Linked DNA regions of Homo sapiens: region 1 is linked to region 2. The links come from fine-mapping of genetic effects on gene expression. A gene starts in region 2. The other region holds a variant in brackets. All regions are shown on one strand. Distances are between the middles of the regions.

The links. PIP is the estimated chance that this variant, and not a neighbour inherited with it, causes the effect. A credible set is the group of variants that fine-mapping cannot tell apart.
Region 1: its variant is the best candidate, but not a certain one, in a credible set for the expression of ANAPC15 in whole blood (INTERVAL, PIP 0.54).

The regions. Positions count from the first base shown.
Region 1 is chr11:71,884,011-71,889,511 of GRCh38, reverse strand. It overlaps DEFB131B (defensin beta 131B), which reads right to left. Exons shown (of 2, transcript NM_001242853.1): 2 at 4,951-5,105. The coding sequence ends at 4,951. It overlaps XNDC1N (XRCC1 N-terminal domain containing 1, N-terminal like), which reads left to right. Exons shown (of 6, transcript NM_001375847.2): 6 at 4,891-5,501. The coding sequence ends at 5,073. All of the region lies in intron 6 of XNDC1N-ZNF705EP-ALG1L9P (XNDC1N-ZNF705EP-ALG1L9P readthrough), which reads left to right. Among named protein-coding and RNA genes, the nearest start is that of DEFB131B, 8.3 kb to the right of the region's middle. The variant C/G (reference allele first, on the strand shown) is at 2,835.
Region 2 is chr11:72,110,118-72,115,321 of GRCh38, reverse strand. ANAPC15 (anaphase promoting complex subunit 15) reads left to right here and starts at 2,627. Exons shown (of 6, transcript NM_014042.3): 1 at 2,627-2,672; 2 at 3,826-3,910; 3 at 4,036-4,165; 4 at 4,719-4,778; 5 at 5,097-5,204. The coding sequence starts at 4,046. LRTOMT (leucine rich transmembrane and O-methyltransferase domain containing) reads right to left here. Exons shown (of 9, transcript NM_001145310.4): 9 at 4,540-5,204. RefSeq lists enhancers at 1,744-2,281, 2,589-2,648, 2,749-2,808, 2,282-2,819, 2,979-3,148 and 1 more and a silencer at 2,401-2,618.

The DNA.
Region 1 (5,501 bases), 230 kb after region 2:
TCCATCACTTGTCCTTCCCTCTACCTGGAGAAAGTCCTTTTCTTCGTTAGAAGAAGTAGGTCCCAGATCAGGTGCTTGAGGGAGCCCTGATGCCCAGAAGGGGGAAGATGCTGCTTTTCGAGCCTCTGAGTCAGCGCGGGAATTCCGCAAACCCAGCCAGGTGGAAGCTCGCTGGTGTCCCCTGCAATGCATAACTGCCACCTTGTGGGGTTTCCATACTGCTTCTAATCATTGCAAGATTTCTTGTTGATATTTTCTGTCTCTTCCCTAGAATTCAATAGGCCCTTTTCTTTCTATCACGCTCCATGAACTTGAAGGGTTGAAAAGACATACCTAGAATCAGTGTAAATGTTGACAGTCTCACCCTCACTGAGTTCTAAGGCCCGAATGAAAGCAATGAGTTCAGCTTTCTAGGCTGAAGTGGCCTGGGGCAATGATGTGGCTTCAACAACAGTGTCCAGGGTTACCCCTGCATACCCTCCACCTCTCCTTGGGGGTTGAAGAAGCTGCTCCCATCCAAGTATAGTTCCCAGTCTACTGATGCCCAAGGCTGGTCCCAGAGGTCAGGTCTGCTAGAGTCAATTGAGTCCAACACTTCTACACAACCAGGCTTGACAGGGCTCTTTGATACCGGGAGCAAGGTGGCGGGGTGGAGGGTGTTACAAACTTCAATGGTTATACGGGGATTTTCACAGAGCAAAGTCTGGTAGTCGGTGAGTGTGGCATTCGTTAGCCAATGATGTCCTTTAGTATTCATTAAAGTCACGACAGCACGGGAGGCCTTAATGTTCAGTTTTTGCCCAAGAGTCAGCTTATTTGCTTCTTGTACTAGCAGGGCAGTTGCTGCCAAGGCCCTCCAACAGGGGGGCCATCCTTTAGAAACCCCGTCTAGTTGTTGAGAGAGGTAGGCCCCCAGCCTCGGCCTGGGCCCCACAGTCTGGGTTCAAAGTCCAGCTGCCATCTTTTCTCTCTCTGATGCATATAATGGAAAAGGCTTTGTTAGATCGGGTAGCCCCAGGGCTGGGGCTGCCAGAGGTTTTCCTTTAACTCATGAAAGCCTTGCTGTTGTTGGCATCCGCATTCCAAAGTTTCCCGGTCCCCGCCCCCTTGGTGACCGCATACAAAGGCTTGGCTAATACTGCAAAGTTTGGGATCCATAGTCTACAAAACCCCACAGCTCCTAAGAATTCTCTCACCTGCCTTCAGCTCTTAGGCTCCGCTAGATGGCAAATGACCTGCTTTCTTTCTGATCCCGGGCTGCCTTCCCACCCCTGTCGGATAGTCAATCCCAAGTAACATACCTTCTGTCAGCAGATCTGAGCTTTCCTCTTGGACACTTCTATCCACAGTCCTCCAGGTGCCGGTGTAGGGCATCTGTTCCCTTGGCACACCCAACTGCCGTGGGGTGTCCCAGCAGAAGGTCATCAACCTACTAGAGCAACACGCAGCCTAGGTCTCTGCTGGGAAACTTCTGGAGGTCTCGAGCCCACGCCTCCCCGAAGATGGTGGGGGAGTTCTTGACCCCTTGGGGAAGCCCGGTCCAAGTGTACTGAGTAGTGACACCTGACTCCGGATCTTCCCACTGAAAGGCAAACAGCTTCTGCCTCTCAGGGGCTAATCTGATAGGAAAGAAAGCATCTTTCAGGTCCAAGCAGGTGAACCAGCTGTCCTCAGCTGGCGGGAACCCCAACAATGTGGACGGGTTAGGTACTGTTGGATGGAAAGTCAGTTTAGCTTGATGAAGCAAGCGCAAATCCTGTACCGGCTGGTAGTTCTTGGTCCGTGACTTGGGAACAGACAGGAGGGGAGTGTTCCATGGAGACCGACAAGGAACAATAATTCCAAAAGTTCTTAGGTGCTTGAGATGGACCTGGATACCTTGAAGGGCTTCTCTGGGGACCGGCCCCTGTTTTTGCCTCACTGGCAGGGCCCCAGTCTTAACTGGCCAATCCTGGAGGGTTGTCTTCTGCCCATACTCTTGGCCACCGCTTAGCCAGAGCTGGTCTTCTCTCTTGGCCTGGCTCAGTTCAGAAAAGTCTCCTTTCCTCCTCTCGGGGGACCACAAGTGTCATAATGACTCCCGTTCCTGGTAACTTTAGCAGCAAAGAGCCGTGCTCTGTCAAAGAGATAGTGGCTCTCAGCTTGCTGAGCAAGTCCCTTCCCGAAAAGGTCAAGGGACAGTCAGGCATGTACCAAAACTGATGAATGACTTTATATCCTCCTACAGTACAAGTGCAAGGCAAGCAGAAAGCTTGCTTTGCTGAAACCCCCGTGGCTCCGATGACGTCAATAGTCTTTTTGGATAACCGGGCGACCGGGGCGGTTACTAGCGAATGTTCAGCACCGCTATCTACAAGAAAGTCAATGTCTCCACCCCCGACTGTCATTGTGACCAGAGGCTCAATGGGGACGCTTGAGTCTTGTCTCCCTCAGTTCAAGAACCCTTCTGCCAGGTTGAGCAGGGCCCCTTCCTCCTTGTCCGGGGCCTCCTGCTCTGAGTCACCTTGTTTTCTTTTGAGCTGAGGGCATTTGTTCTTCCACTGTCCTATTTCTTTACAATCAGCACACTGGTTATGCTGCAAACTCTGACAGCCAAGCTGAGTTTCTTTCCCAGGGCCTCCCTTCCCTTGCCTCTTTGTGGGGGCCCCTCTGATTGCTGCAGCTGACAAACAGGTCGGCATATCGCCGGGCCTGACCTCCATTCTCTTTGCCGTTTTCCTTACGGCTTACTGCATCCCTGTTTACAAACACCTGGCTAGCTATTTCTAGTAATTGGGATGGATTCATCCCTGCAAGCCCAGCCTGTTTCTGCAGTTTTCTTCTCATGTCTTCTG[C/G]GCTTTGACGGACTAAAGCCATGGGAATCATGCGCTGATTTTCAGGGCTATCAGGATCAAAGGGAGTATACATACGATAGGCCTCCCACAGTCTCTCGTAGAATTGTGTTGGACTTTCTTCTTTACCCTGAATGTCCTCAGAGAGCTTGTTAACGTTTGTGGCCTTCTGAGCTCCCCTCATTAATCCTTCCAAGAGAGCTTCCCTGTCTCGGTTTAGCCTTTGCATATCCTCTCTTTCATGTGGGTCCAACTGGGGGTCTGTTCCTGGCAACTGGGTCCTTCCATACTCTTGGGGGTTTTGATAATCAGCTGGTGCATGTTCCTCTAGCCACTTAGTTGCTGCTTGAGGACTCTCCGCCTTTCTTCGCTGTTAAAGAGGAACATGAGCAACTGGTGCCAATCAGCCCAGGTGGGGTTGTGGGTCTGGATAACAGTTTGGAGCAAATCAATTAGGGCTTGTGGCTTTTCGGTATAGGACGGTGTATTGTTTTTTCAGTTGAGAAGATTGACGCAGGTGAAGGGCTGGTACCCAAAAACACGCCTCTCCACCACGTGACCATCCTCATCTATCCCAGTCTACGGCTGCTCTCTCAGGGGCATTTGTGTCCCCTTTTGGGTCGTAAACGAGCTGCCGAGGGAGGAGTGGAATGGCGCAATGCGACTTACCGCAATTAATAATCTCAATTATTAATTGACACTAATAATTATCAATATTAATAACCCATAATATTTTTAAAAATCAATACCGATAATAATGATAATTAATATTAAATAGTTATACTAATGGTAACAATACATGATTAATATTAATGATTAATGATGCCTGATATTAATAACTGATATTGATCTTATTCATTAGAAAACAGTAATATTAGCTCCTAAGAATTAATATTAATATTAATAATCTGAAAACTTTATTAGCAATTATTTCTTAATATTAATATTAATATCGGTCATTCATATTCATGTTAATAATAAATGAGGTATAATTCACACTAATATTACTCCCTAATACCTCAGTGGGTGTACACCCACCTGTGATATTGCTCCTAATGTCCAGGGTGGGAGAGAGCATGATATTACGTTCAATATCGCAGTAGGTGTACACTCAGCCGGTGATATTGATCCGAATATAATCTCCAAGGGGTGGAGTATGATGTTACTCCCAATATAGCACTGGGTGTGCATCCACCCGGTGATTTTGCTCCTAATTCACAGAAGAAGAAAATGCTATTACTCCCAACATCGCAGGAAGTGTACACCCCCGTGTGAGATGGTCCTTAATAACATTCCAAAGCGGAGGGGCTGATAGGACTATATATATGGCAGAAAGTGGACACCACCAAGGATATTGTTCCCATGATCCTGGAGGGAAGAATGTGATATTACTTTCAATATCACAGAAGGTGGACACACCCCCACTGATATTGTTTCTAATTGCAACTTGGGAGAGGAGGATATGACACGCGATATCCCAGGGAGTAGAAACACCCCTTTGATACTGTTCTTAATATTCAGGGAGGAAGAAGATGATATGACACCCAATACAGACGGGTGTACAATCTCTGTATACCCAGGGTGTACACCGGTTTGTGAAACAGTTCATAATCTCCAGAGCGGGAGATGATATTACTCACAATTTGATAAACAGGCTGTGTATCCACCGCGGATCCTAAAAACCAGGGGGGCAAGAGGGGCTGGCTCTTACTCCCTGCATCGTGGGGGGCTCCTCATCCCCCTGCAATGGGGGTCCTAAGAGTCAGAGGGGCAAGAAGGGCTGGCTCTTACTCCCAGCATCGCTGGTGGTGCCTCACCCCCCTGCGATAGGGGTTCTAAGAGCCAGGGGGGCAAAAGGGGCTGGCTCTTACTCCCCGCATCGGATATAGTACTATGGGTGAAACAACAATGTGGCTGTGGATGTAAATTAAGGGAGTAAATGTTAAAATGCACAAATGAAAATAGAGTGTAAGCATTTATAAAATTTATATTCATTTTCACCTGACCATCTAAACATGCAATTATAATAATTTTCATCTATCATGTTAATTATTCATAGATAAGAGAGTTTAAGACATGTTTTTTCTCCTGGAGTCTGAAGAAGATGGAGTTAGAATTTTCACCACTTCTTTTGTCCATCAATTTGAATGATCTTCAGTTTGCAGCAGATGCTGAAGTCAGCACAGTATCTAATTGCATGTTCATCAGCATTGCACTTCAGTCTGCAATGATAATATTCTGAAGGACATTCATCATTAGAAGTGAAGCTTCTGGCTTTAAAAAGAGAAGACAAATTATATGACACAATATTACTTACTTTTTATGTTTAAATGTCTGAAATGTTTTATAATAAATTAAAAGCATTACAGAACTTTCCCAGAAAAACAAAAACAACAGCAAAAGAATGCAAGAGAAAAAGTGGAGATGCTGAATAAAGACAAACGATGATTTCTTCTGTAAAGAGAGTAGTAAATGAGGCAGTAGTTGGAAATGTACAGAATTTTAAATGAGAACTATTACCACATATTTCTACCTAAAATGAATTATCCAGCTTGGGGGTGGTGTAGAGATTCATAATGCAGGAAATAATGTTTAATTTCTGGAGTTAAATTCTTAAAAAAGTCATTGGGGATGGAATCTAGTGTAAGTGGAGGGGTTGGCCTTGAATCA
Region 2 (5,204 bases):
GTTGGTACTCAATAAATGTCACCAGCTAACCAGTCATCATTACTTACTGAGCCTGGCTGATGACCCTGAAAAGAAACTCTGTTACTAGGGAATTTCCAGCAGGCGGAATTATCAGGAAGGACGGGGCAAATGGTACCTGAGGTAAGAATCCTGTAAGAAAAAGATGCCGGAGGAGAAACTGATGGAGACACAGGTCACAGAAGGAAGATGAGGAATCCAGGAGAAGGTCATGCTGGGCCCTGGGGACATAGTAACCATTCAGTCCCTGCCCTCAAGGAGCTCATGGTCTGTTGGGGAAATAAACAAAAGCACAATTTTGTACAGAATGAGGCTGCAGTAAACCATTTTCTCCTACCACCCTTTCTTTACATGGCTTCCAAGATACCATCAACTCACCCAGCTTTCTACTTATCTTTTTGGCCTTCCTTCTCCATCTGGTTTGCTGCTTTTCCTAGTTTCCTCAAATTCTGAATATTGGAGGAAACTATTTTCCAACTACATTCACTCCCTTGGTGATCTCATCCAGTCTCATGACTTTAAACACCATCTACATGCCAATGACTCCCAAATGATCTATCCAGCCCAGATCTCTGCCCTGACCTGCAGACTCATATGCCTTCCTGCCGCCCCAACATCTCTACTCTAATGGGCATCTCAGACTCAACACACTCAAACCTAAGCTCCCTGTCAAAAAAAAACCAAACCCCTCATCACCTCCCCATTCCTTCCCAACTCAAAAAAGTGGCAACACCAATCTTCTAGTCGTTCAGCCCAAAAATCGTGGCTCCTTTCTTATTCTGGCATTGTCCATCTGTTAGCAAACCTTGTAGTCTCTACCATCTAAATAAATTCAGAATTCAACCACTTCTCATCCACTACCTCTAGATTATCATAATAGGCTCCCAAATGGTCTCCCTGCTTCTGCCATTGTCTCCCCTACCCCAGTCTATTTGGAGAACAGCCAGAGTAACTCAGTTAAACTGTAAATCAGATTGTGTGGACCCTGTGCTCACAACCCTCCACTGGCTCCCCAACTCCTCATCTCCTACCTATTACTCTCCCTAGAGGACACTATGCCCAAGCCATTCTAGGCCCTCTGCACTTGTATTCTCTCTCTCTGAAATGCTCTTCCACAAATATCAGAAGGCTCTCTGCTCCTTCAGACCTTTACTCAAAAGTCACCTTCCCAGTGACTTTGGCCCCCCAGTCTGAAATAAAACACCTCCCCTGCAAATATTTTATTCCCACTTCTCAGATTTATTTTTTCTCTTATTTACTGCAATCTTACAACTACATATTTTATTTATCTATCTTCTTTATTGTTTACCTCTCTCAGAATGAAGGCTGCATGAAAAGAGGGACTTTTTTGGTCTGTTTTGTTTACTATTGTATACCCACTACTAAGAATAGTGATGGACATATACTAAGGCACTCAGTAGGTATTTGTTGAATGAATGAAAAAGGTAGTCATTTCCAAGAGGCAAAGTTTACTCTTTAATGAAAAACTATAACAAACAGTGCTATTTGGCAATATAATCACATTCAATATGCACAGTACACGACCTCTTGAACAATTCTTATCCAATCTTCACATCAGCCCAGGATAGAAGGAAGGCTGGGCAGAGATTATGATGCTGGTTGACAAAGAAGCTGAGTCCAGAGAGAGGAAAAGGAATTGCCAAAACTCACACATCTGGCCAGGACAGTACTGGAAATGCGGATAACTGCTGTCCCTGAAAGAGGCTGGTAAGTGATGGAGTTTAATAGGAATTGGGTTTGAAGGACCTCTGTTGCCAGAAAGCATGAGTATCTCTAAAGGCGAAGCTGAGTCAGAGGTTACTAGAACAGAGGCATCAGCAAAGGATGGGAGAGGTGACGAGGGCGATCTCTAAGTGTACTTGGCCCAGGCCTGAGGAGGGCAGCTGATTCCCCCAGCAACAGAATGCTGTGCCTGAGGCTAACTAGTCATTCAAGTCTGTACATAATCTCCAATGTCAAAACTCAACAAGCAACCTTAAGAGAGACCACTAAGTCTACTGCATGTCTGCAGGGTTTGGCTTCCCTGGACTGTGAGGTCTTCCAGGGAAGCGACCATATTCCTAGATTTATCCCCAGTTTCTAGCAAGGCCTGGAATATAGTAATATTGTAACTCTAATATTTTTGTTCAGAGCAAAAATAAAAAAGAATGAATATGCTCAAACGGGAAACTGTAGCTGAGAGAGCACAGATAGGAGGGGCCTAACATCAACCAGCAATTCTGAAGTAGTAACAGATTAGTTTTCTGGGATGCAGCAGGACGAATGGCCCTCGCACTAAAAGGTTGCTGTCAGCTCTTCTTCAGAAGGGGTTAACAAGCAAATGGTGACTGGCAACAAAAGGGCAGGGGTTAAACGGGGCAGTGGTTAAACGAGACCGTAGTGCTGGCGCCAGGATGGAGACGCCGACTGGCTGAGACTCAAGGCGGGGCAGATAGGTAGGCGCGGCACACTTCCTTCCCTAACAATGTGACTAAGGTAGGTCAACGTCACATCCGGTTTAGTGGGCGGGAGCGGGGAAAACAAAAGGAGACGAAGGACGCATGCGTTTGGTGAGTCCCGGATTCTGGTGGGTTCTTCCGCTCAGGCTGGGTGAAGCGCTTCCGGGTCGCCGCCGGCAGCAGCCTCCCGGCGCGGTAAGTACAGACGCAAGGCTGCAACCGTCTCCTTGCCCCTTCATTCCTTTTTCCCCCAGAGAAACCCATTTCCTTTGACCCGACTCCCCAGGAGCTCCATATTGAGAGTCCTTAACCCTTAAAGAGCTCCAGCTCATTGGCCGCTTCCTCGAGACTAAGCCCCACCCCGTCACACAAGGTCCGTCATTCATTGGTGTCACTTCCTGTCACCCAGCATTTCTTTCAGTTAATTGGTCCTACCCAGGCCCCGCTTTTTTCGCGTTTAGCAACCCTATAAGGCCAAATTTCTGTCTGAGACCCGCCCTGCTTTCTTTCTGTTGGTCAACTGCATGGTCATTATCGTAATGAGCAAAGAAAGGGCGGTGGCTTTGCGACGGTGGGTTGGGCTTTCGGAGCCGAGATCGCTGGTCTGTCAGTACTTCTTGGACATGAGGGTGTTTACCGTCGTGCCTAATTACGCGGGTTGGGAATCTGAGATACAGGGAAGGGCAGCGGCTGGCCCTGGGTCGGTCAGATAAATTAAGACAAAAGCAGGACCAGGCATCGATTATTTTCTCCTGCTCATCCCTTTCACGGAGGAATTCTAAGCCCCGACACACTGTATGACCTAAAGCCAGTCTCTGCCTGTCGCTGGGCCTCAGTTCGCCTGTCCTAAGTTTAATTCAGATTATCTGGCACTCCTGGTCGGCTCCCTCAGCCGCTCAAAGCTGATTGTACCCTTATAATGTTAGTTCATCCATTCAATCTTCCATCTACTTATTTATCCACTTATTCATGCCTCCTAGAATGTCTTACTGAACCCTGCTTGCATATGCTACAATCCCTCCACCCCGACATTTGGCTGTGATTCATGAGAGGTCGTTAGTGTCCTAAATTTCTGACACTGGGTGGGTGTGGTATGGGCCATCATAAAGGGTCAAAAAGCAGGTTTTAGTGTGTGGAGGAGGTAGGGATAGTTTCAGTAGAACCCTGCTACCTCTAATTTTGTATAATTTCATAATGCCAGTCTGCATTCTGGATTCCTATCCCTACACTTGACTCCCATTCTCATCCCTCCTTGAACAGCCTGCAAACAGCTTTGTTGATCCATTATTTACTTAATTATCAGAATAACTTTGACAGTGGTATAATTGTTATTATCCCCATTTTACAGATGAAGACACTGAGGCTCAGAGAGGTTAAGTGACTCAGCCAAGGTCAAACAGCTAGTAAGTGGTGGAGCCAGGACTCAAAGCCAGGTCTGTCTGATTCCTAGGGGGAGGGGCTGCTTTCCTGCTGTCTTCCACCCTATCCCTAAATCAAATTACAACCAAATTAAAAACAAAAACAAAGCAAAACACATTCACTTGACCCTTTCCCTCAGTCTAGGAGCCATGTCCACTTTGTTCCCCTCACTCTTCCCTCGTGTGACTGAGACTCTGTGGTTTAATCTGGATCGACCCTGTGTGGAAGAGACAGAGCTGCAGCAGCAGGAACAGCAGCATCAGGCCTGGGTGAGTGAGCAGCTAGCACAGCACAGAGACCTCAGCACAGACAGAGACCTCCTTCAGTGGGCCATGACCCAGCCTTACTCCAGAAATCTACCCAGGAAGAGCTTTTTGCCCTGAGCTGGGAATAATCGGGCTGGGAGCCAGGGAGCCAAGGTTCTCATCTTGTGGTACCCTATTTTACAGGGGTACCATGTGACTTCTGGGCCAGATTAGAGCCCAGGCTGCTGACACTCAGCCCAAGCTCTTTTCCCTAAAGCACAGGAAATAATTTTGACTATTAATTGAGGATCTAGCAGATGATGCTTTCTAGGCTGATAAGTCTCTCACTTCATCCTCACCATAATTATACAAAAAAAAGAAGGCTCAGAGAGTTTAAGTATTTGGATCAAGTTCATAAATGGCAGATGACAAGAAAGGGATTGTATCTCCCTGAGAACTGGGAGGAAGCTTCTCCCCAACACGTGTGGGTTGTCTTCTGGGCAGAATGGGCCAGTCCCATGCCCCTGACCTGCCCTACTTGGGCTCTGGCCTTGTTCCTCTGTGCCTTTGCCCACAGCTCCAAAGCATCGCGGAGAAAGACAACAACCTGGTTCCTATTGGCAAGCCAGCCTCAGAGGTGAGTGGCTCTAGCAGGTGGGGCCTGTGTGGGGGCCGCAGTGGACCGAGGCTCTGCTCTAATTCTGAATGTCCTGTCTCTGACCCAGAGCAGTTGTGGTTCTCAGATCTGGGTAAAAGCCTAAAAGGGGAGATAGAAGGGGTGGGCATTGGGCCTAGCATTAAGGTCCTGCAGAACATGCACCAGCCTGCTAGACTCAAGGAGGGAGTGTCGGGGTAGGGGGTCATTCATTGGCCCTAGAGAGAGGCTCAAGTGGGTCAGTTCTTGAACTGGTCCATGCAGGCCTGTAGGGCTTACAGGCTCTGTCCTGCCCACCAGCACTATGATGACGAGGAAGAAGAGGATGATGAAGATGATGAGGATAGTGAAGAGGACTCAGAGGATGATGAGGATATGCAGGACATGGACGAGATGAATGACTACAAT